Linked DNA regions of Homo sapiens. The protein of the gene in region 2 interacts with the protein of the main gene of each other region in a pairwise test. Each region holds a gene or a part of one and is shown on either strand. Other genes may lie near its edges.

Region 1 (8,168 bases), on a different chromosome or scaffold from region 2:
GGTGGAACTTGCAGTGAGCCAAGATGGAGCCACTGCACTCCAGCATGGGCGACAGAGCAAGACTCTGTCTCAAAAAAAAAAAAAAAAAAAAAAAAAGACATAGGGAAATGAGAATATCACCATTTTGCAACCTTTAGGGAATTAGTGATGTGAAAATAAATGGCTGCCAATTTCCAAAAGGAGAGGTAATCGGACATCACGCACCTGCTGGAAGAACAGCAACACCCATGATAAAGTCCTGCCGACAAAAAATCCAGCCTGAAGCTGACCCAGCCTCCAGCTCCAACTACCAAAGTCTAGGCAGTGGGACCTTTTCAAGACAAATGAGCCAGGTTCATCAAGTTATAAAGAAAAAAAAAGAGACAGAGGGAACATGAAGATTTTAAGAGACTTAAAGGATTTATCTAAAAACTGTATTTGGATACTAATTCAAACAGTTTTAAAAATGGACATTTAAGACACACTGGAAACTTAAACACTGAATATTTGGTATTAAGAAACGTTTTAGGCCCAGGCATGGTGGCTCACACATGTAATCCCAGCACTTTGGGAGGCAAAGGTGGGCGGATCACCTGAGGTCGGGAGTTCGAGATAAGCCTGACCAACATGGAGAAACCCCATCTCTACTAACAAACCCCGTCTTTGTAAAAAAAAAAAAAAAAAAAAAAAAATTAGCTGGGCATGGTGGCACACGCCTGTAATCCCAGCTACTCGGGAGGCTGAGGCAGGAGAATCGCTTGAACCTGGGAGGCGGAGGTTGCAGTGAGCCAAGATCGCACCACTGCACTCCAGCATGGGCAACAAGAGTGAAATTCCATCTCAAAAAAAAAAAAAAAAAAAAAAAATTTAGCCAGGCATGGTGCCATGTGCCTGTAATCCCAGCTACTTGGGAAGCTGAGGCAGAAGAGTTGCTTGAACCCGAGAGGCGGAGGTTGCAGTGAGCTGAGATTGTGCCACTGCACTCCAGCTTGGGCAACAAGAGCGAAACTCCATCTCAAAAACAAAAACAAAAACAAAAGAAAGAAAGAAACGTTTTAGGTGTAATTAAAAAATACCATGAAAGAAAAAAAAAAAGAAAGAAATTTTTAAAAAGAAAAAAAAATGCCATAGACTGGGTGGCTTAGAAAACAGTTTTTTGTTTTCTCTCTGAAAAGACCCTAAGAAAGAAAAAAAAAATCGCAATGTATTTTCTCATAGCTCTGTAGGTCAAGAAGCCCGAGATCAAGGTGTCAGTAGATTAGGTTTCTGGTGAGGCCTGTGTTACAGACTGCAGACAGCCACTTCCTTGCTGTTATCCTCAGGTGGCCTTTCCTCGTTTCAAGGGGGAGGTGTCCTCTCACTCTTCCTCATCTAATCCAATAATAAAGGGCCCACCCTCCTGACCTCATCTAGCCCTGGTACTTCTCAAAGGCCCATCTCCTATTCTTAGCACACTGGGAGTCAGGGCTTCGGTGTGTAGGGAGGGACACAAATGTTCAGTCCATAACATCCATTCGTGGATAAATTATATGTCTGAGATTTGCTTCAAAATAATATAAGACTGGGGAGAATGAGGGGTATAGAGAAGCAAGATTGGGCAGTTCACCTAATTGCTGTAGTTGGGTGAAAGGTTTGTAGGGTCTCTTTATAATATTCTGTCTACTTTGATACATATTGCACTTTTATAATAAAATATGTGAAATGTTACAGTTCTTCCATTTCCCTTATCCTTCTCTTTTTCTTTTTTCCATAGCACTTGTCACCTAACATTATTTGTCTATTGTCTATCTCTTCTTGACAGAATGTAAACTCTCAAAGGGTTGGGATCTTTGCTCTCTGACATAACCCAAGCCCCTTCAGCAGTAACTGGCATGTAATAGGTCCTCCGTAAATGTTTGCTCACTGATGAAAACAGCCCAACTCCTCCATACTCCACACTAGACAACCCAGGATCCCCAAAGGACAGAACAGACTACAGGAGAAGCAAAGACAGTGCTGGGTATCAAGTTCTCAGAATAGGAATTTAATTTTGGAATAAGACTATACTAAAAATTTCTAGTGTATAGCTTACTTACTCAATTCTTAGAATGCTAAAGTGACATTTTTATTTAATTATATGGCAAAGGCTTTCTCAGAAGCATAATTTTAGGGACAAACTCCCTGCTTCCATGTGAACAGATGGTGTCTGCCTTCCCTAAGTACTTGGTAAAGCAGGAGTCATCAGACATGCTAATATTGGTCCGAGCTGTGCTACTAAACAGTTACACTGATCATGGCCAGTCACAGCAAAACCAGCCCTCAGCTCCTCAACTTCAAAATGACTTCTGACGGCCCTTCTCATTAACCTGGATGTTTAGAGCTTGCTGACTGGTCTAGGTGAACTGACAGTGCCCACAAATGGCAAGCTACAGATTGAGTTAAAGTTACTATCCAAACAGGTGGTTGTCAGTTCCAAGGCTCTGCTAAAAATTTCAACCCTGAAATTGTTTTTTTTTGTTTTTTGTTTTTTGAGACAGGGTCTCACTCTGTCGCCCAGACTGGAGTGAAGTGGCACAAACATGGCTCACCGCAGCCTCAAATTCCTGGGCTCAAGCGATCCTCTGGCCTGTCTCCCAAGTAGCTAGGACTAGAAGCACGCACCACCATGCCCAGCTAACTCTGAAATGTATACAATCGCTTCAAACTGCTAACAGATCTCAGTTAAAAATAAGAAAAATGGGCCAGGCGCGGTGGCTCATGCCTGTAATCCAGCACTTTGAGAGGCCGAGGCGGGCAGATCACAAGGTCAGGAGATCGAGACCATCCTGGCTAACACGGTGAACTCCATCCTTACTAAAAATACAAAAAAATTAGCCAGGTGTGGTGGTGGGCGCCTGTAGTCCCAGCTACTCGGGAGGCTGAGGCAGGAGAATAGCGTGAACCCAGGAGGCGGAGTCGGAGCTTGCAGTAAGCCGAGATCACGCCACTGCACTCCAGCCTGGGCAATAGAGCGAGACTCTGTCTCAAAAAAAAAAAAAGAAAAGAAAAGAAAAATGTCCAAACATACAATGGAATGGTCCCTGGTCACTGTTAAAAAAAAAAAATTGCAAACAGGGGCCTAAAATAATATTCAGAAATTAAACACCATGTAACAAATGTCCAAAAAGCCACATAAGGGAGAGAGCACAGAAGAGGCTGGACTTTTCCTAAGAAGGGATCACCCCACCTTGTAACCACATCTAGAACCCAGAAGCCCAAATGTCAAGATAACATTCCCTCGGTCAGGAGTACACGAAGGACAAACCTCCAAAGACAGACGCAGCTGTCTAAAACCAAAGACGCTTGATGAATGCCGGCCACTGCGCGCTTGGTAGCTAACACAGACAGTGGTGCGGCAGGTGGCATGGTGCCCCACAACATCCTAACCCTCAAAACCTGTGAATGTCACCTTATTTGGGAAAGGGGTCTTTGTAGACTTAATTAAGTTCAGGAGCTCAAGATGTGATTATCCCAGATTATCCAGGCAGGCCCTATATATAGCTGGATTCTAGATATATTTCAAAGATAATGTCAGTTGTGAGAGAAAAAAGAAGTCATAAATGACTCCAAGGTTATCAATTTTTAATTTAAAAACAAATATTCTCTAAGGCCAAAATACTGTGACTATATTTGACATTAAGAGCAGATAGAGGAAAGATTTGAGGAAGAAAGAAGGTGAGACACAGGACAGGAAGCCACAGGAAGCTCTGAGGCAACCCACCACAGAGGCAGGCACTGAGGTGGGAATGTTTTGACTGTTTAAGACCCTGCAGCTGTCTGGGCACAGTGGCTTATGCCTGTAATCCCAGCACTTTGGGAGGCCAAAGAGGGCGGATTGCTTGAATCCAGGAGTTCAAAACGTGCCTGGGCAACATGGCGAAACCCCATCTCTACTGAAAATACAAAAAATTAACTGGGCATGGTGGCACACAAGCAGCTACTCGGGAGATTGAGGTGGGAGAATCACCTGACCCCAGGAGGTCAAGGCTGCAGTGAGCCGAGATCATGCCACTGCACTCCAGTCTGGGCGACACAGTGAGACCATGTCTTAAAAAAAAAAGACCCTGTAATCTTCTGCCGTTGCTGGTCTCTAACTCCAGATCTAAAGCCACCAGGTCTAGAGTGGAGCACGGGGGTGGGAGGGTCAGTACTTGGAGATCAGTGTGCAATACCTTTGGAGACCACACACTTACACACTAAGGCATGCGACTCCAGGGAAGACACTCTGTCAACTGGCAACAAACTTTCCTACGACAAAAAAATCCTTAAGTCAGTTATTTGTATTTCCATTAAAAGATAACCAACTCAGCCAGAGTGAGCCACACAATCACACTGTCAGTTGGCAGGCCTCTGGTGGAAGCACACAGCAAAAACTCTCTAAGGAAAGACTGGTTCATGTGTTATGCCCGACATACTTTTTTTTTTTTTTTTTTGAGACGGAGTCTCACGCCAGGCTGGAGTGCAGTGGCATGATCTCGGCTCACTGCAACCTCCGCCTCCCAGATTCAAGCAATTCTCCTGCCTCAACCTCCCGAGTAGCTGGGACTACAGACGCGAGCCACCACGCCCAGCTAATTTTTGTATTTTTAGTAGAGACGGGGTTTCACCATGTTGGCCAGGGTGGTCTCAATCTCTTGACCTCATGATCCACCCACCTTGGCCTCCCAAAGTGCTGGGATTATGGCCATGAGTCACTGCGCCCAGCCTTTATTTTTTTTTCTGAGACCAGGTCTTGCTCTGTCACCCAGGTTGCAGTGTGAGGTACAATCACAGATCACTGCAGCCTTGACGTCCCAGGTCCAAGTGATCCTCCCGCCTCGGCCTCCCAAGTAGCTGGGAGTACAAGCGCACACCACCACACCTGGCTAACTTTTTTATTTTCATTTTTGTAGAGATAGGAATTCCCTATGTTGCCCAAGCTGTATCATACTTGATTATTTCAGAGATTCATCAGCACTTAAGAAAAAAAGAAAAAAAAAAAGAAAATCAGACCTTTCCATTTCATTTGCATAAAGAACTTACTAGAAACTCTTCAGAAACACATCTTGTAGTAAAGTAGGTGTGTGAGCTGAAAAGAAAGGAAGCTTTTCAATTCTAAAGTATCAGTTCAAATCCACCCTGGAGTTGGGCTAATAACACTAACAGCACGGGTTCCCAAACTGTGTACCTAGGCTTCCCACACACTACGCAGAGAGGCACCAAGAGATATTTTAAATTTATGAGGGAAACAGCAATGCTTGTGGTGTAGGAACCCCACACAAGGTATTCACAGTGTCAACATCAGATCAGGGCTCCACTTCTTTCGATGACATCATTATCGTCGCAAAACAGGGTGGCTGCTCTGATAAAAAGCAAGTACCACCAAAAAGAAGAAGAAAAAAAAAAAACCAAAGGGAGAAGCAGCGTCCAATCCGACCTTCAGGTGAGAGGTGCCACAGAGCTCCCGCAGGGCCTGCCCCCCACGTAGCACACTGCTGCAATTAGGAAGAATGATGAAAATATTTTTTTCTTCCAACTTATATATATTTTTTTTCAAACAGCTCTTGTTAGGACATAATATTTAATAAATTACTGGAATCTAACTACTTAATAAATGGAATTTTTAAGTATTCCTTTTAGCCTAGAGATGCCATGAAAAAAATTACCGAGACACTAAAAGCATTGTGAACAGAGAAAATTGAGGAACCTCTCCTTAGTAACTTTTTTTGCACACTGACTATAATCCTGACACTCTCCTGAGTGCTTTACACACCCTTCTCAACCCGATGGGGTTGGTACTGTACCCGTTTCACAGCTAAGGGTCTGTGAAATTATGTAAGAACCGAGGTCATGCGTACAAGATGGAATGGTTTGTAACCATGCTCGGGTAGAAATGACATAGTAAGTTAAGCACATTTGTTGGTGCCTTTAGTCCCCGCCTCCAAATACATACTCTCTGCAACAACTGCGATTTCCTAAGAAGAATGTTTCTCCTACTTTTCAATCTTTGGTTCAACATTGCCTTGAGAATTCAATATGAAACAAAATCTGCATTTATAACATATTCACCCATTTAAACAGACATTTCAAGTGACTTTTCTGGTAGTAAAACTAGTGATGGTTAAATCGCAAGCACCACATTTTCAGGTTTAGTAGAAAATTTCAATGTGCAAATTTAAAAACTTTAACCTGGCTGGGCGCGGTGGCTCATGCCTATAATCCCAGCACTTTGGGAGGCTGAGGCGGGCAGATCACAAGGTCAGATCAAGACCATCCTGGCTGACACGGTGAAACCCCGTCTCTACTAAAAATACAAAAAATTAGCCAGGCGTGGTGGCGGGCGCCTGTAGTCCCAGCTACTCGGAAGGCTGAGGCAGGAGAATGGCGTGAACCCGGGAGGCGGAGCTTGCAGTTAGCCAAGATCACACCACTGCACTCCAGCCTGGGCAACAAAGCAAGACTCCGTCTCAAAAAATAAAAATTAAAATTAAAAAAATTTTAACCTACAGGGGAAAATCCCAAAGTCCAACCAGACACGAAGCTCTACATATCTGCTCATTTCTGTTGCCTGTTTTCCCCTTTAAAAGTTTCTAATATCAGACCTGGAACCCCAAATACAGAAACTCAGAAAAATGAAACAGGCAACAGATGTGACTAATGAGAACAGATCACCTAGAGGGAGGGTACTATTATTGTTCAGAGAAATTCAATTCCAAGCTAATAACAGGTATGTGCTATTGTAGGTATGAGGACAGTCAACAAAGAAAAGCCACAAATCACTGGAATTACATTAACTTTGTCACTAACTGAATGAGATGGCTGGAAAAGGAACGTGTCTTTCCTAATACACCCTTGGAACAGAAACCCAAGTCTATTTCAAAACAGAAAACTGACCCTGTGGCTGAAAAACAAATCTACGCTAAAATTTAAATTTAGACCAAATGGATCTGCTGGATTTGTTTCAGTTACGCCAGGCATTTTTCATGATTAATAAAATATACTACAAGTTTTCCTATTGCTATGATTCGGTCATTCATCACCCAACCCCGTCAAAGCATTAGTTCCACTAACTGTTCAGCTCCCATCCCTGCACATTTCACATACACTCTTCAGTATTTACAAGCTGTAACTAGTTCTGAGTTTAAGAAGGCCCCTACTGTGCTAGTCCCTCTTCACAGGAGCCCGTTAGGCAGGAGGTTTAATTATGGGCTAAAGTCTATTAAAACATTTAGGGCCAGGTGCGGGGGCTCACGCCTGTAATCCCAGCACTTTGGGAGGCCGAGGCGGGCAGGTCACCTGAGGTCAGGAGTTCTAGACCTGCCTGGCCAACAAGGTGAAACTGTGTCTCTATTAAAATACAAAAATTAGGTGGGCATGGTGGTGTACGCCTGTAATCCCAGCTACTTGGGAGGCTGAGGCAGGAGAATCGACTGAACCCGGGAGGCAGAAGTTGCAGTGAGCCGAGATCGCGCCACTGCACTCCAGCCTGGGCAAGAGAACAAGACTCTGTCTCAGACAGAAAAAAAAAAAAAAAATTTGGAGAGCTTCAAAATATTATTAAAATAATTCAGGCCAGGTGAGGTGGGTCATACCTGTAGTGCTGGCTACTTGGCAGGCTAAGGGAGGGGTCACTTGAGCCCAGCAAGGCTGCAGTCGGCTATGACCATGCCACTGCACTCTAGCCTAGGTGACAGAGCGAGACCCCATCTCTAAAAAAATAATAATAATAAAATGAAGTGAAATAATCAGCTAGGTTTTAAAGTAATAATCTATTCTAATTACCCTTAATCTTTGGGAACTTTTCATTCTTCTATCCCTACATATACACAGTTTTTAAATTCACCTGAACCAGTTACATTCTATATTCTTCCCAGAAAGGTCTAAGCAGAATGCATTTTCACTGAAGTAAAATATTATACATTCTATGGAAAAAAAATTCACAACATGCATAAACTCTACTTTCATTTTAAAATGAACAGATCTGAGGTAATACCATTTCAAGTAAGAATTTAAAAGATTTTTGAAAACAAAAATGTTGCCTACTAAGAGAACTATGTACATAATATTAAAAAGTTAAGGGTTAATTAGCCTCTGGGTGGATTTTTTTAAAGCAATTGTTCATACCACCTTCTCCTTTCAAAACATGTATAGCTGAAAGAGAGGAGCAAGATGAAGGCATAAAGTGAAACCAG
Region 2 (8,168 bases):
GTTGTGGTTGGTCTCCTAAGTAGGTTGGATTTTTCTCCTCTTCTAAGAGAAAACAATAGTGAAATTATTTTCTTTCTCTTTTCTCTCTGTTTCTGTCTCTTTCTCTCTCTCTTTCTCCCTTCCCTTCCCTTCCCTCCCCTCCCCTCCCCTCTTCTTTTCTTTTCTTTCTCTTCTCTTCTCTTTTCTTTCTTTCATGGGGTCCCTTGCTCAACCTGTTGCCCAGGCTGGAGTGCAATGACATGATCATGGCTCAGTGCAGCCTCAACTTCCTGGACTCAAGCAATCCACCTGCATCAGCCTCCAAAATGGCACATGCTACCATGCCCAGCTATTTTATTTTTACTTTTAGTACAGATGTGGTCTTGCTATGTTGCCCAGGCTGGTCTTGAGCCATTGAGCTCAAGTGATCCTCCTGCTTTGGCCTCCTAAAGTGCTGGGATTACAGGCATGAGCCACCGTGTCTTGAGGGGTTTGTTTCTATTAAAAGACTTGGTGTCAGGGAGGAGCACAAAGCTTTAACCCATTGAACCTCTGACAGTTAAGATGGTGTTGGGTTAGGTTACATCTGGTTACTATCCTGGGAAAATCACTTCTATAGAGATGGCCTTCCAAGTGGTTTTAAAATGTATCTTTCTGTCTGGGCGCGGTGGCTCACGCCTGTAATCCCTGCACTTTGGGAGGCCAAGGCAGGTGGATTGCTTGAGGTCAGGAGTTTGAGACCAGCATGGCCAACATTTTGTATTTTTGTATTTTCTCTACTAAAAATACAAAAATTAACCAGGCATGGTGGTGGGTGCTTATAATTCCAGCTACTTAGGAACCTGAGGCAGGAGAATCACTTGAACCCTGTAGATGGAGGTTGCAGTGAGCCGAGATGGCCCCACTGTACTGCAGCCTGGATGACAGAGCGAGACTCCATCTCAAAATAAATTAAAAAAATGTATCCTTCTATTGAAGTTTTTAGGTTAATCATGTATATGTTGACTAAATTATGAATTAACTTGTTTATCAAAAAAAAAGTAAAAAGTAAAGTAAGTAAAAGTAAAGTAAAATAAATAAAATCAACCTTATAATTCACTTTTTCTTAAACTGTTTCAGGGAAAAAAGTATAAATGTTTACATTAATATTTTTAACCAATCTTGTAAAACAATTTCTGAATACTAACATCCTAGCATTCTAAAAGTATTTAAAACTATTGTTTTTTAAAATAGGAAAACGGACGATGTATTACTAAGCTGGAAAACATGGGGTTTCGAGTGGGACAAGGATTGATAGAAAGGTGAGCAGGTTGGATTTGAAAATTTTCTTGCAGGTAGGTTATAAACAAAGGTGATCTATTTCAAAAGATTGCATAAAACTTGGGATATTTTAATTTTAATTCCTGAATGTTATTCTCTTTACTTCAAAAATTAAAATTTCTTTTTAGATCCAATGCCATTTAACTCATTTATTCAAATTTTATTTTAATGTTTAAAGAAAATATATATTTTATATATTTTAGACTTTCTTCCTGAAGCTATTTTAGACTTTATTCCTGAAGCTATTGAAGCAACTATCTAAAATCTTACTGCATTTTCAACTTAAGATCTGCTAGGTTCTTTAACCTGCATAGAATTTTTAAGTACATAGGTTTGAAATAACTATAGTCTATGTTTATGCGTGTAATTATCTTTGAACTTATAAATCAGTTCTTTTTAGTATTTCTTTCTCACTACCTGAATAGTTAAACTCGGAGTATATTTTATATAACAATGTCATGATAATGCTCAGCTCTTTGTTCTTTTGTGGTTTTTTGATGTGCTAGAATGCATTGCACCTGAAATTTTGGCTATAATGTTAGACTAATTTGAGGCCTCATAATTTATATAACATAATGTGAATCCATTGAGATAGGATCATGTTACCTGGTGCTTATGACTTTATTAGTGTTAATAAATGTTCAGCCAGGTGTGGTGGCTCATGCCTGTAATCCCAGCACTTTGTGAGGCCAAGGTGGGAGAATCTCTTGAGCTCAGGAGTTTGAGACCAGCCAGGGTAACAAAGTGGAACCCTGTCTCTACAAAGATATACAGATTAGCTGAGCATGGTGACATGTGCCTGTGGTCTCAGCTGCTAGGGAGGCTGAGGTGGGAGGATAGCTTGAGCCTGGGAGGGAGGTAGACGTTGCAATGAGCCGAGATTATGCTATTGCACTCTAACCTGGGCGACAGAGCCAGAATCTGTCTCAAAAAAAAAATTAAAATTAAAAAACCCAATAAATGTTCAGTGCTGTTCTGGCATTTGGAAATTAGTTAATAATTAGTCCCTCTTGCTTTTTTTGGAGGAGAAATACTGTATTACTTCTAGTTGATCTTTTTAGGTTTACAAAAGATACTGCAAGGTTCAAGGATGAGTTAGATATCATGAAGTTCATTTGTAAAGATTTTTGGACTACGGTATTCAAGAAACAAATCGACAATCTAAGGACAAATCATCAGGTAATTAAATTAATTAAGGCCTATATTTTAAAGTCCTTTAACTTGATATAAATATCGTATTTTAGTGACTTATTTAAAACCTAAAATAATTTCTGGTTAACTTTGGAATATGTTTATGTTATTAATGAGTTATTAGTTTTTTTCTTCTAATAGTGTGAACTGAGTAAAGACAAAGGGACAGTTATCAGTAATGATAGCTGTTCCTTTCACCCAATTATATGCTATGTTAAGTTTTTTAAAGTAGCATAAGTCAGGATGAGAATAGCTTTTACTATTTGGTTCCTTAGTTACTGTTAATTAGTGGTAATAATATGCAGAACCACAAATATATCACCTTTATGTCTTTAGAGTCATTTCTTTTTTTTGAAGAAGAAGAATTTGGATTATTTTAATTATTTTTATATACAGAAAACTCAACAGTGTATGTTTAACCCAGTTTGGTGTCAAGTTCTTTAGCCTTTGCCTTTTCCTGCTTGACAATTCAAGCCACAGACTTGAGACCCAGGACATTGCCTCCCCAGTGACAGTGGATTTCGTTTTGTCTGTCGTAATTGGTTCTGATAGCTTCCACCAGCTGAACCTAAGCTCCATTGTCCTCTGAGTTAATCTGTGTAAAGGCGACAGTGGTGCGGGTCTTCTTGTGGATTAGACATCCCAGTCTTGCCTTCCCCTTGATAATGCGGTAAGGGACCCCCATTTTATGACACAAGGCAGGCAGGAAGACAGCCACCTCGATGGGATCCACATAGTGTGCAGTCACCACCAGCTGAGCCTTCTTGTTCTCCTCCAAGGTGGAGATGGTGTTAACTCCTGCTCGGAGGACAAGTGGTCTCTTAGTGGGGACATCCCCTTTGCCTGCAGCTTTCTTTTCAGCCCGGGCCAATAGCCTCTGCTTATTTTCTTGCTTTGTCTTTGGTCTGTACTTGTGGGCCAGCTTAAGCAGCTAAGTAGCTATTTGGCGGTGCAGGGCCTGGGTGAACTGGTTAATTGTAGGAGGCACTTTCAGCTGCTTACAGAGGATGGCTTTGTGCCACTGCAACCTGATATAGCGGGGCCATTTCACAAAGTGAGTGAGGTCCATATTGGGTGGATGTCCTGTCCAATGCCAGAATTCTTAGGCCTTTTCTCAAACAGGGGATTCACCACTTTCTTTCTTTCTTTTTTTTTTTTTTTTTTTTGAGATGGAGTCTTGCTGTGTTGCCCAGGCTAGAGTGCAATGGTGCGATCTCGGCTCACCACAACCTCCGCCTCCTGGGTTCAAGCCATTCTGCCTCAGGCTCCCAGGTAGCTGGGACTACAGGCATGTGCCACCACTCCGGCTAATTTTTGTATTTTTAGTAGAGGTGGGGTTTCACCATGCTGGCCAGGCTGGTCTCGAACTCCTGACCTCAAGTGATCCGCTTGTCTCGGCCTCCCAATGTGCTGGGAGTACAGACGTGAGCCACCACGCCCAACCAGGATTCACCACTTTCTTGGCCTCCTGTTTCTTCATGACACCAAGGGCCAGAGCCACCTCCTTCCTCTTGGCCTTTCCTTTTGGCATCTTGGGTGGCAGGAAGAGATTCTTTATAGTCATTTCTAAAGTCTAATTTATAGAGCATTTTACTCTTAAATAACTCCTGGATTATTACTGCTGTCATATTTTCTACTCTTAAAAGATTTTCTTACTACAAAATTAATAGATTACATAGAAAACTATGTATTTATTAAAATTTTAAAAGGGAGACAGAGTCTCGCTTTGTTGCCCAGACTAGTCTTGAGCTCCTGGACTCAAGTAATTCTTTGGCCTCAGCCTCTTGCATAGCTGGGATTATAGGCATGCACCACCACTCCCAGCTTCATTAGATTTTATTTTATGAACTTCAAGGAAATACTTAGAGTAGATTTGGAATTTTGATTAAGTAAAAAATTAAATGTATCTGGTACTCTCAATAGGATAATTCATTTATTTATTTATTTTTAATTAGAGACAGTGTCTCACTATGTTTTCCAGACTGGTCTCAAACTCTTGGGCTCAATGGATCCTCCCGCCTTGGCCTCCCAGAGTTCTGGGATTACAGGTGTGAGCCACTGTGCCTGGCCTGGAATTCATTTTGTACCAACTTTAGCTTGGAATTACTGGAAATGCTAATAGGAAGAAATGACTATGATTTTTTTACTCTCTAGACATGATTTACTAATATATATCAGCTGGCTGGACATGGTGGCTCATGCTTAGAATTGCAGCATTTTGGGAGGCTGAGGCAGAAGGATTGCTTGAGCTCAGGAGTTGGAGACCAGCCTGAGCAACATACTTAGAACCTATTTCTACAAAAAACTTGAAAAAAATTTCACCAGGCATATTGGTATGTGCCTGAGGTTTCAGCTACATGGGAGGAGTTCAAGGATACAGTGAAATACTACACTTTTGCCTGGATAACAGCAAAATTCTGTCTCTTAAAAAAATAAAGCTGGGCGCGGTGGCTCACCCCTGTAATCCCAGCACTTTGGGAGGCCGAGGTGGGCAGATCACCTGAGGTCAGGAGTTCGAGACCAGCCTGGCCAACGTGGTGAAACCCTGTCTCTACTAAAAATACAAAAATTAGCCAGGCATATTGGCGCACGCTTATAGTCCCAGCCACTCAGGAGGCTGAGGAAGGAGAATTGCTTGAACCCGGGAGGCAGAGGTTGCAGTGAGCCTAGATCACACCACTGCACTCCAGCCTGGGCGACAGAGCAAGACTCTGTCTCAAATAAACAAATAAATCCGGGTGCGGTGGCTCACGCCTATAATCCCAGCACTTCAGGAGGCCAAGGCGGGTGGATCACCTGAGGTTGGGAGTTCAAGACCAGCCCTGCCAACATGGAGAAACCCCGTCTCTACTAAAAATACAAAATTAGCTGGGCGTAGTGGCGCATGCCTGTAATCCCAGCTACTTGGGAGGCTGAGGCAGGAGAATCACTTGAACCCAGGAGGCGGAGGTTGTGGTGAGCTGAGATCGAGCCATTGCACTCCAGCCTGGGCAACAAGAGTGAAACTCTGTCTCAAAAAAATAAATAAATAAAAATAAAAATTAGGTCGGGTGTGGTGATCATACATGTAATTTCAGCACTTTGGGAGGCTGAGGCAGGAGGATTACTTGAGCCCTGGAGTTCCAGACCAGCCTAGGCAACATAGGGAGACCCCCTTTCTACAAAAAATTAATAAAACTAGCCGGGTGTGGTGGCATGTGTCTGTGGTCCCAGCTACTCGGAAGGCTGAGGCAAGAGAATTGCTAAACACCCAGGTGTTTGAGGGTGCAGTGAGCTGTGATTGCACCACCACACTCCAGCCTAGACAACAGAGTGAGAGCTCATGTCTAAATAAATAACTATACAAACAAACAGCTTATTTCATGTGGACATGTATTAATGATTCCATCGTACTAGACTATGAGTTTTTAAGGATAGGGACTATGTCTCAGACAGTGTTTTTATCTTCAGTGTATAAAACCGTTCGGTATACATTAGTGTTGTGAAAATACTGAACTCGCAACTCTTCAGCTTGAACATTGCAAAACTCCTTCATTTAAACAAAATTTGACCAGGCTGGGCACGTGGGCTTATGCCTGTAATCCCAGCACTTCGGGAGGTCAAGGTGGGCAGATTGCTTGAGCCCAGGAGTTTGAGACCAGCCTGGGCAACATGGCGAAACCCCATCTGTACAAGAAATATAAAAATTAGCAGGGCATGGTGATGCACGCCTGTAGTCCCAGCTACTTGGGAGCCTGCGGTGGGAGGATTGATTGAGTCTGGGAGTTGGAGGCTGCAGTGAGGCGTAATTGTGCCACTGCATTCTACCCTGGGCGACAGAGGAGACCCCGTCTCAAAGAACAGAAAAAGAAAACTTGGCCAATGGGAAGGAGACTTTTAATAACTTTAAAAAACACTTAAATTGTTTCATAAGAATAAAATAATTTTAAGGACTGCTAGGTACATTGACTTTGGATTTTTTTTCTATTTTTGGAACAGGGCATCTATGTACTTCAGGACAACAAATTTCGCCTGCTTACTCAGATGTCTGCAGGAAAACAGTATTTAGAACATGCATCTAAGGTATTTAATGGAATAGAAGTTGGGGTTTTTGTTAATAGTAGGACTACAGGGAAAAGTACAGTGCTAATCATAACAAACTATTGAATTAAAAATATGTTTTAAGGTGTTCTTTTTTGTTTAAAGAGTTTTCTATGAAATGAGAGACATGTTACAATAACACTAAACTGTAGCTAAATAGTCATAGAGTGACCAATTAAAGAAACACTGGCCGGGCGCTATGGCTCACGCCTGTAATCCCAGCACTTTGGGAGGCCAAGGCAGGTGGATTACCTGAGGTCAAGAGTTCAAGACCAGCTTGGCCAGCATGGGGAAACCCTTTCTCTACTAAAAATATGAAAAATAGCTGGACGTTCTGGCGAGCGCCTGCAATCCCAGCTATTCGGGAGGCTGAGGCAGGAGAATCACTTGAACCCGGGAGGCAGAAGTTGCAGTGAGCTGAGATCGTGCTATCATTGCACTCCAGCCTGGGGTATAAGAGCAAAACTCCATCTCAAAAAAAAAAAAAAAGAAAAAAAAGAAACACTATAACTAAATGACAGTGAAATGTAGATGTATGGTAGATCACTTTTTTTTTTTTTTTAAGACAAGGTCTTGCTCTGTCATCTAGGCTGGAGTGTAGTGGTACAATCATGGCCTATCTTGACCTTGACCCCCCCGGGCTCAAGTGATCCTCCCACTTCAGTCACCCAAGGAGGTAGGACTGCAGGTGTGGGCCACCATGCCTGGCTAATTTTTAAAAAAATTTTTTAGAGATGGGATCCCACGATGTTGCCCAGGCTCGTCTTGAACTCCTGGGCTCAAGTGATCACCTCACCTCGGCCTCCCAGTGTGTTGGGATTACAGGTGTGAGCCACTGCATCCGGCCTGATTGCCTATTTTCTATATTTTTGGGGTATCCAGGCTCTAATTACATTTTTATGGTTAATGTGTATATTTTCTCTCTTTTTTTTTTTTTTCGGACAGAGTGTGAGACTCACTGCAACCTCTGCCTCCTGGGTTCAAGTGATTCTCCTGCCTCAGCCTCCTGAGTAGCTGGGATTACAGGTGTGCGCCACCATGCCTGGCTAATTTTTTGTATCTTTAGTAGAGACAGGGTTTCACCATGTTGGCGAGGCTAGTCTCAAACTCCTGACCTCGTGATCCACCCACCTCAGCCTCCCAAAGTGCTCGGATTACAGACGTGATTACAAAAGCCACCCAAAATGCTGGGATTACAGCCTCCCAAAGTGCTGGGATTACAGACGTGATTACAAAAGCCACCCAAAATGCTGGGATTACAGCCTCCCAAAGTGCTGGGATTATAGGCCATGCCTGGCATATTTTCTCTTTTTTACTAACTTCTTAGTTTAATATTTCTGGTTCTCACTTAACTTTTTGGGATCTTGGTTTCTTCAGCTGTGAAAAGAGTAAGTTGGACCAATTCAGTGATTTCTAACTATTTTGAGTTATGGACATCTTTGAGAACTGGAACACCTTTCCCCATAAATACGCACATATACATGGTTTTTATTTTCATAGGGGTCACAAATTCCCCGATTAAGAACTCTTGGGATGAACAATCTCTAAGGCCTCTTCCAGCTTAAAATTTCATGACTCAGATCTAGTTACTTATTAGT
Region 3 (8,168 bases), on a different chromosome or scaffold from region 2:
GAGGTGGGTGGATCACCTGAAGTCTGGAGTTCGAGACCAGCCTGACCAACATGGAGAAACCCTGTCTCTACTAAAAATACAAAATTAGCCAGGTGTGGTGGTACATGCCTGTAATGTCAGCTATTCGGGAGGCTGAGAGGGGAGAATAGCAGGATGGGAAAGCCATAATTCACTTTTAAGACAAACAAATGTACTTCTCTGCAACATTTTTTAAAATAGAAGAAAAAACAAATAATGATTTGAGAACTGAAATATGATTAAAGCCTTTAACCTGATAGTTCCATGAATGACAATATGAACGATATCTATTTTAGAATGCCTCTGTATCCTCAGCACTCAGCAGTATCTGCTCTAAAATTCACTGAAGAAGCTAAATAAAATACATAATATCCATGTGACAAAATATCGTACAGCTCTAAAACATGTTTTCTTGGCCAGGCCCAGTGGATCACGCCTGTAATTCTAGCACTTTGGGAGGCTGAGGCAGGCAGATCCCTTGAGGTCAGGAGCTCGAGATCAGCCTGGCCAACTTGGTGAAACCCCATTTCTACTAAAAATTCAAAAATCAGCTGGCAGTGGTGGCACATGCTTGTAATCCCAGCTACTTGGGAGGCTGAGGCAGGAGGATCACTTGAACCCAGGAGGTGGAGGATGCAGTGAGCTGAGATCAAGCCACTGCACTCCAGCCTGGGCAACAGAGTGAGATTCCATCTCAAAAAAAAAAAAAAAGTCTGCAAGCATTCCTATTACTGGTTTTGCTGTGATATTTATTTTGCCTTTGTAGTTACTATGACTAAATATCTTCTATAATTTTCATCTAAAAAGGCATACGATCTAGTCTATTCTACTACAACACATTTTTATCTTATCAATTAGTTAACATGTGAATGGTAAGGGAAGTGATATCAGTTCAAATTAAATTTTTATTCATACATAATTTTTCTTAGGCAAGGGAATCAAAAATAGCAGTATTATAAACTTATATCCTTCAGTAGGAAAGGAAAAAGCCCTGAGCTCAGCTGCTGCACAGAAAGGCGCTCTTTCAGCTGCTAAAAACTGAATGCCTACACTTTGGTGCATATGGACTGTGTCTCCAGAGAAGTACACCACCAGCCTTGCACAGCTCTGGGCTCAGGGCAGGCTGTACTTTCTTCTATGATCAGCTTCATGGCAGCTCCATCGGTTGGGAACTCTTCTTGCTCATCCCCATCTCTATAAAAAAATTATTTTTTATATTCCCTGAGGTATCCTCAGCCATGCTAAGCTGCCTATCTAGATTATTTAGGTAATCTTCCAAGGTACCATTTAATGTTTTTGTTTGTGCTCTGGTTACAAAGATGAATAGGTTTCAAGAAGACTAACCCAGTCTAACTTTTCTCAGAAGCCCATTATTTTTAGGGTAGCTTTTAAAGGCTAAGTGATTTTCAGGTGCACATATATCATCTAAGAATAAATATGCCTTTATTTTCCAGTGCTATATTATTTTCTCTCAAATAGCTACTAATACTTCCAGTTGAATGGCTTAAATGTAGTTTTTATCAAACATTCTACTTGCAGGTACATTAAATAAAAATTTCTCATTACAAATGCATACCTAGGTTATAAGGTATTAATAATAACATGAAGTATTTGTGATTTCATATTAGCTTAAATTGGATGACTATAATGAGCAATCAGAGAATATTTAGCCAAGGAAAATTCACTTATATTTTCAAACACTTCTCATGAACATAGCATATTTTCCATTTCTATGAAAGGTTTTTAAAAACTTGGTTGGCCGGGCACAGTACATTGCCTGAGGTCAGGAATTCGAGACCAGCCTGGGCAACACAGCGAAACCCTGTCTATACTAAAAATACGAAAAAAAAAAAAAAAATTAGATGGGTATGGTCGGGCATGCCTGTAATCCCAGCTATTCAGGAAACTTAAGCACAAGAATCTTGAACCCGGGAGGTGGAGGTTGCCGTGAGCTGAAACTCTGTCTCCAGGAAAAAAAAAAAAAAAAAAAGTGGGCTGACTTTTTTCATTAAAAAATTAGAGAACCAGAAAGCAATAGTAATATAATTTTGCTATTCTGGCTTCCATTTTTAAGTTACATATTTTATATATGCACAGTATTAAAATAAATGCAAAACAAATGCCAGTTATTAAACAAGTATCTGTCAGCCTGTGAATATTTTCTAGCTAAAAAAAAGTATCTACACAATTACCTATGAATTATTCTTATAAACTTTTTTCTTCACTTTTGTTTATAAGCTTACATGTCTTTTAAAAGATTAAATAAAAAGTAACAGTGCTAATTTTACTCTTTTCTGAACACATAAAGCAGATTACACATATATCTGTGGTAACTTTTCAAAAACATTAAAAGGTTTTAGGCAACAAGTATAGCAAATTCTTTGGAAATACCTGGCTTTGTAATCAATTACAAAACTAACACAACTGATATTACTGACAGCTTATTATATATAAGGCATTATGCTAAGTGCATGCTTTATACTTTATCTGATCCTATACCATTAGGATTCGCATATTTTACAGGTCAGAAAACTGTAGCTTAGAGATATTCAATAACTTGCCTAAGATGAGAGAGTGTCTCACACCAAAGTACATGTTCTTGATGTATGAAGTCATACATCAAGCAACTTAAAAATGTTTGTCAAGGTTTAAAAAAACTTCTAAAAAAATTTTTGTATTTTAAATATATTAGAAAATGAAATACAATTCTGAAAGCTGATGCAAAAGTTGGAAAGTACTAATAAAGAAAGAAACCCTAATACATGACCATTTTTTAATTACCTAGTTTTTTGGGTTTTGTTTTTAAGAAATAAGTTTTTTCAATTTATTTTTAAAGATGCAATCTTACTATGTTGCTCAGGCTGGTCTCAAACGCTTGGGCTCAAGCAATTCTACTGCCTCAGCCTCCCAAGCAGCTGGAACTACAGGCATGTGCCACCATACCCAGCTAATCAACTAGTCTGAGGGAAATCCATCAACTCAGCATTAAGGAATTAACAATCTGTAAAGTACTATATGCTCTTTGAGTACAACTTTATCCCTAAGGATTCTGTTTGCCACCAAGAGAAATTTCTAAATAATTTATGGTAGCAGAATTAAGGAATTATAATACCATAGAATACCAACCAAGGCACCAGCTGCATAAAGCATTGCTTGATCATTAAGAAAATCTTTCTTTGCAGTATGATAGCAACTGTAAGCCAAATCATAATGCTGCACCAAAAAACATAAGTCAGCCATTTTCCTGATTTGAAGTTCTGGTGCTTCCGGCGGATACCTGTAAATACAAAAGAAAATAATTTATAATTTATTACCCCCCAAACCATTAAAATTATAAAATACATTAACAAGCTGCCATGTTCTTCTAGAATATGAAGAAAACTAATGCTGTTTCAAAGAAATTCTACCTCCAACAAGAGTGTCAGTTCTCAAAAATACCTGGAAACAGAAAGTTCCTTGTTTTATTATTTATAGCCCTGAGAATGTCTGAATGGCAGGCAAACATTTTCTCCATGGTCAAATAATGAAGTAAATGGTTAATTCCAAGTGACTCACATTTATATACAACCAGGAGAAAGATTAAAATCCAAAATGGATTAATTATATTTTTTCCTTAAAATGGTTTTTTGTGTAAAGCAAAATTTATTAAATGTGTCCCTTGTCTTAGAATCATCAGGCCATTACATTTTAGATATAGAATGGTTACTAATGAATACCTAGTCTAACTTCATTGTTTTACAAATAAGGAAACAGACCAAAAGTGACTTTCCCATTTGTTTTTAGATGTCCAATTACTTAGTTTTTAAAAAATTAATATGATTTACTTGAGTCACTCTTCTTATCCACCTGAATTTTCACCAATAAGAAACTAAGAAATTAAAGAGATAGTTATCTTCTGCAGGATATACAATCAAACACTAGTCAGAGAGTTAAACAGAGGAAAAACAAAAATGATAACACTTTACTCACAGCAAGCCAGATGTATTTTTCAGGTCATTAATGCTCTTTTCTGGAACTTTACTGCCACTAAACCATTTTTTAGTTGCAGAAAATAGAGATCGACTCAAACCTTTTCTTGATATTAGCTTTAAAAAAGAGATTAAATATGTTGACAAACAAAGAATTTAGTATTTTTCCTTTACATAAAAAAATTTTAACTAAAAAGCTTTAATAGCAAATGTTCATTTTAATAAAACTGATTTAAAGAAAACTGTCCAATATGCTGGCAAAATCCTATTGAAAATGAATAAGCCTCTTCTAGAGTTGAACAGAATTTCATCATTGATAGTAATTTTGGGAAGTCTTAATATTGGCCTATCTTAAAACGAAAATAAAACAAAACTTCAAATACGTTTAATAATTCTTAAATTTACTATTTACTTAAATTTTTAAAATACTAATCCAAAAAATCAAACCTTACCTGATCGTTTAATTGCCTAATTGTTTTCTCTATATGTGGCAAAAGGCCCCGAAATGTGAACTCTTGTATAAACTGTCGAATTCTATCATGATCAGTAAGTGTTAAACATGCACCATGAATTATTCCAGTATTTCCTTTCTTTGTTTCATGTAACGATGAAGCAGATCTTAGATGATCTGGGCCATCAATACTGTTAGAAGGGTCACTGGATTGCTCCAACTGAAGTGGGTGAGCTCTAAAGTTATTTGGTAAGCCATCTACTGAAAAAGAGATTATTTCTTTTACTCTCAGAATGCAACAGAAAACAGTGCTAATACTACCATACTGCTAAAGAAAAAAAAAAAGCAGAATGTTAAAATCCTTTATCTTTCAGTATAGGTAAATGTCTAAGATAAAACAGCAGTAACATCCCCCAGCCCCAAAATTAATGAGCTTGAGTTAATATTTGTTTTGGTACCTGTATTAGTAATTTGAAAATCGGTATAAACCAGGAAATGGAGAAAAATACTTTATTTTAAATAATATAAAGAATGACTTTTAAATAGTACAACTAAGCCGTAAGAAAAAATATAACAAAAAAAATTTGTTATCATTACAAAAATCATAAAGTCAGAAATAAAGCTCTCAAAATCATGTAAATTTTTAAATAATTAATGCTGTGCATCACATCTTCCCTTGCTTTCTACAAAATATTTTAAAAGAAATCTATACACTACTCATATAAAACAAATTTTTAAGTGTCAAAAACAAACTCAAGTAGCTCAGTAAAATCTTCAGAAGAAAAACTAACCTGCCCAATATCTTTCTGTATTATGAAAAATTTCCCCCATCTTTTATCTATAAAGGTTAGCATGATCTGACAACAGTGCATATTTTCAATCAAAAGAGAAACTTAGAGAAAATATATCAAGACCTTTGACTTCGTTATCTAATCCATCCAATGAAAGCAAGTTATTATCAGAATTCTTATTTGAAGTTATAGTACAAGGGCCATCTTCATATGATTCCTATCAAAATAAAATTTAAAAAGCATTAGCAGTTATACTTAATCATACTTAATATACTATCAAATCCATCAACAACTATGGTTACTCTGCTAACTGTTGGCCTCATTTATTTGCTACAGTGAGCATTTTCTCGTCCTCCAAATTCATAACTTCTTCCATGGATCTTATTCTATCACTCCAACTCACACCTACTATATTCTTAAATCCCCTTTCACACTCAAGCTACTATCCTAATTCTTCTTAATTCAAATTATCTCTCAGGATATCTACTTATATATGATATGTATATACACGAGTGTTCATATAAGCACATACATATGCTTATGCCTCTTAAGTAAGGAATAATGGCAAGAGAGATGGACTACTAGAGTCAGACGGGGAAAGAAGAGAGGCACAGATATGAAATTCTTTGGGTCACAGTGTAAGCAGGTTGGAGTGAATTCTGAATATACTGAAGTGTTTTAGAAAAATATCTAACGCAACGTTTATTTGTGCAAAGGAACTGGTTTCTCAGTTAACAAAAAAACACTTAAACTAAAAATACCCAGACTACTCTACAAGACCAGTAAATATGATGTATTATTCTGAGTGTCACACTTTGAGGGAATTTACATAAACTAGAACTCAAGAAGAAAGTGACCAGGACAAGAAAGTCTGAAGCCACTCCTTGAGAAAGAGTTGCAGAAACTAGGCATATTTAGACTGGAAAAATATAAAAGAGGACATGAGAATTATCCTTCTATATTTTGAAAGTTGTCTTAATGGAAAACTAACATAGTCACTCCCAAAGGATCAAGCGTACAAGCAAAGGTCAAGAATTTTTTATTGATCCTTAAGCAAAATGAGAGAATTTTTGGGTGATCAGACATGCAATAGGTCACTTAATAAGAATACAGTGAGTACTGTCAACAGACGCAGTCATTCGTAAGTTTAAAGAAATTAAAGCATTAGATCAAGCATTGGATGTAAAACCTCTAAACTATTCTCCAACTTTGAGCTTCTAGGATGCTAAGGCATAGATTTCTGATATTTCTGCTTTCTGCTAAAAGTTCTCATACTGCACAATCTTCTTCATGTTCCCCTTCACAACCTTAGGTGACTGAACTCTAAAGTGTATTTTTTTCAGTACTGTTCTTATTCTTAGAATGGCCCCTAAAAGACCATTTTTAAAAATAAAGTTCCTTCACATCCAACTGGTACTTCTTTGCTTTTCCCCAGCATTATCTTAAAGAACGTCAGTAATCACCTCAATACTAAAGTCAGTAAAATACCATGATAGCACTACATTTAGATTTAAAGATTCCATTTATGAGACAGAAAAATAAAGCAAATAAACAGATTAAACAATACTTATATCAGAAGATCAAAAATTACATAAGCTTTGTAATTGATTTTTTAAATGTCACACACAGAGTGCATAATATAGTTTAATTGAACAATATAAATATATTTTCCATTTACTTAAGAATTTCTAGGCCAGGCGCTGTGGCTTACGCCTGTAATATCAACACTCTGGGAGGCTGAGGCGTGTGGATCACTTGAGGTCAGGAGTTCAAGACCAGCCTAGCCAACAGGGTGAAACCCTGTCTCGACTAAAAATGAATCGCTTGAACCCAGGAGGTGGAGGTTGCAGTGAGCCGAGATCTCGCCACTTCACTCCAGCCTGGGCAACAGAGTGAGACTCCGTCTCAAAAAAAAAAAAAAATTTCTGGCCGGGTGTGGTGGCTCAGCACTTTGGGAGGCTGAGGCAGGGGGATAACTTGAGGTCAGGAGTTCGAGACCAGTCTGGACAACATGGTGAAACCCCATCTCTACTAAAAATACAAAAATTAGCCAGGCGTGGTGGCGGGCGCCTGTAATCCCAGCTACTCGGGAAGCTGAGGCATGAGAATAATTTGAATCCAGGAGGCAGCTGTTGCAGTGAGCCGAGATCATGCAGTGAGCCGAGATCATGCCACTGCACTCCGGCCTGGGCGATAGAGTAAGACTCCGTCTCAAAAAAAAAAAAAAAAAAAAAAAAGAATTTCTTCTAGGCCGGCATGATGGCTCACACCTGTAATCCCAGCACTTTGGGAGACCAAGGCCTGGGCGACAGAGCGAGATCCTGTCTCAAAAAAAAAAAAAAAAAAAATTTTCTTCTAAACAAAAAACAGTGACTCTCGATTATCTGAACTAAGCATAGGAACTTGGCATTTGACTACTACCAAGCGGCATACTATTGTACCTTAGAAGTCTGACAAAACATCAAACGCCCATCAACTTAAGCCAATAGGACAATCAATCTTATTCTAGAACTCGAGGTTAAGAAAGGAGTAATTAAAAAACAGTAACTCCTGAGAGTACATAAAGAAGGGAAATCAACGGAAAGTTGGAGGGAAATGCCCACCCACCTAAAAAGTATGAGTTCCTGAAGGTGGCTATAAAAGCATGTTAAAAAGGTACGAAAGAGGCTGGGCATGATGGCTCATGCCTATAATCCTAGCACTTTTGGAGTCTGAGGCGGACAGATCACCTGAGGTCAAGAGTTCGAGACCAGCCTGACCAATATGGTGAAACCCTCTCTCTGCTAAAAATACAAAAATTAGCTGGGCGTGGTGGTGTGCGCCTGTAGTCCCACCTACTTGGGAGGCTGAGAGAGGAGAACTGCTTGAACATGGGAAGTGGAGGGTTGCAGTGAGCCAAGATCGCGCCATTGCACCCCAGCCTGGGCAACAGAGCGAGAC

What was found. Proteins that work in one complex are often made in the same cells at the same time.
Region 1: the proteins of TRAPPC6B (region 2) and TRAPPC10 interact in a two-hybrid assay, tested with the Homo sapiens proteins (one study listed by BioGRID).
Region 3: the proteins of TRAPPC6B (region 2) and TRAPPC8 interact in a two-hybrid assay, tested with the Homo sapiens proteins (one study listed by BioGRID).

What each region holds. Positions count from the first base shown.
Region 1 is NC_000021.9:44,014,954-44,023,121, reverse strand, and holds part of TRAPPC10 (trafficking protein particle complex subunit 10), read right to left. Parts: intron 1-8,168. UniProt on the Homo sapiens protein: Specific subunit of the TRAPP (transport protein particle) II complex, a highly conserved vesicle tethering complex that functions in late Golgi trafficking as a membrane tether.
Region 2 is NC_000014.9:39,152,595-39,160,762, reverse strand, and holds part of TRAPPC6B (trafficking protein particle complex subunit 6B), read left to right. Parts: intron 1-1,212; coding exon 1,213-1,280; intron 1,281-2,360; coding exon 2,361-2,478; intron 2,479-2,846; exon of another isoform or gene 2,847-3,641; intron 3,642-6,468; coding exon 6,469-6,552; intron 6,553-8,168. UniProt on the Homo sapiens protein: Component of a transport protein particle (TRAPP) complex that may function in specific stages of inter-organelle traffic.
Region 3 is NC_000018.10:31,904,316-31,912,483, forward strand, and holds part of TRAPPC8 (trafficking protein particle complex subunit 8), read right to left. Parts: intron 5,446-8,168; coding exon 5,352-5,445; intron 5,330-5,351; exon of another isoform or gene 5,269-5,329; coding exon of another isoform or gene 5,229-5,268; intron 4,699-5,228; coding exon of another isoform or gene 4,696-4,698; coding exon 4,439-4,695; intron 4,104-4,438; coding exon 3,988-4,103; intron 3,296-3,987; coding exon 3,145-3,295; intron 1-3,144. UniProt on the Homo sapiens protein: Plays a role in endoplasmic reticulum to Golgi apparatus trafficking at a very early stage. Maintains together with TBC1D14 the cycling pool of ATG9 required for initiation of autophagy. Involved in collagen secretion.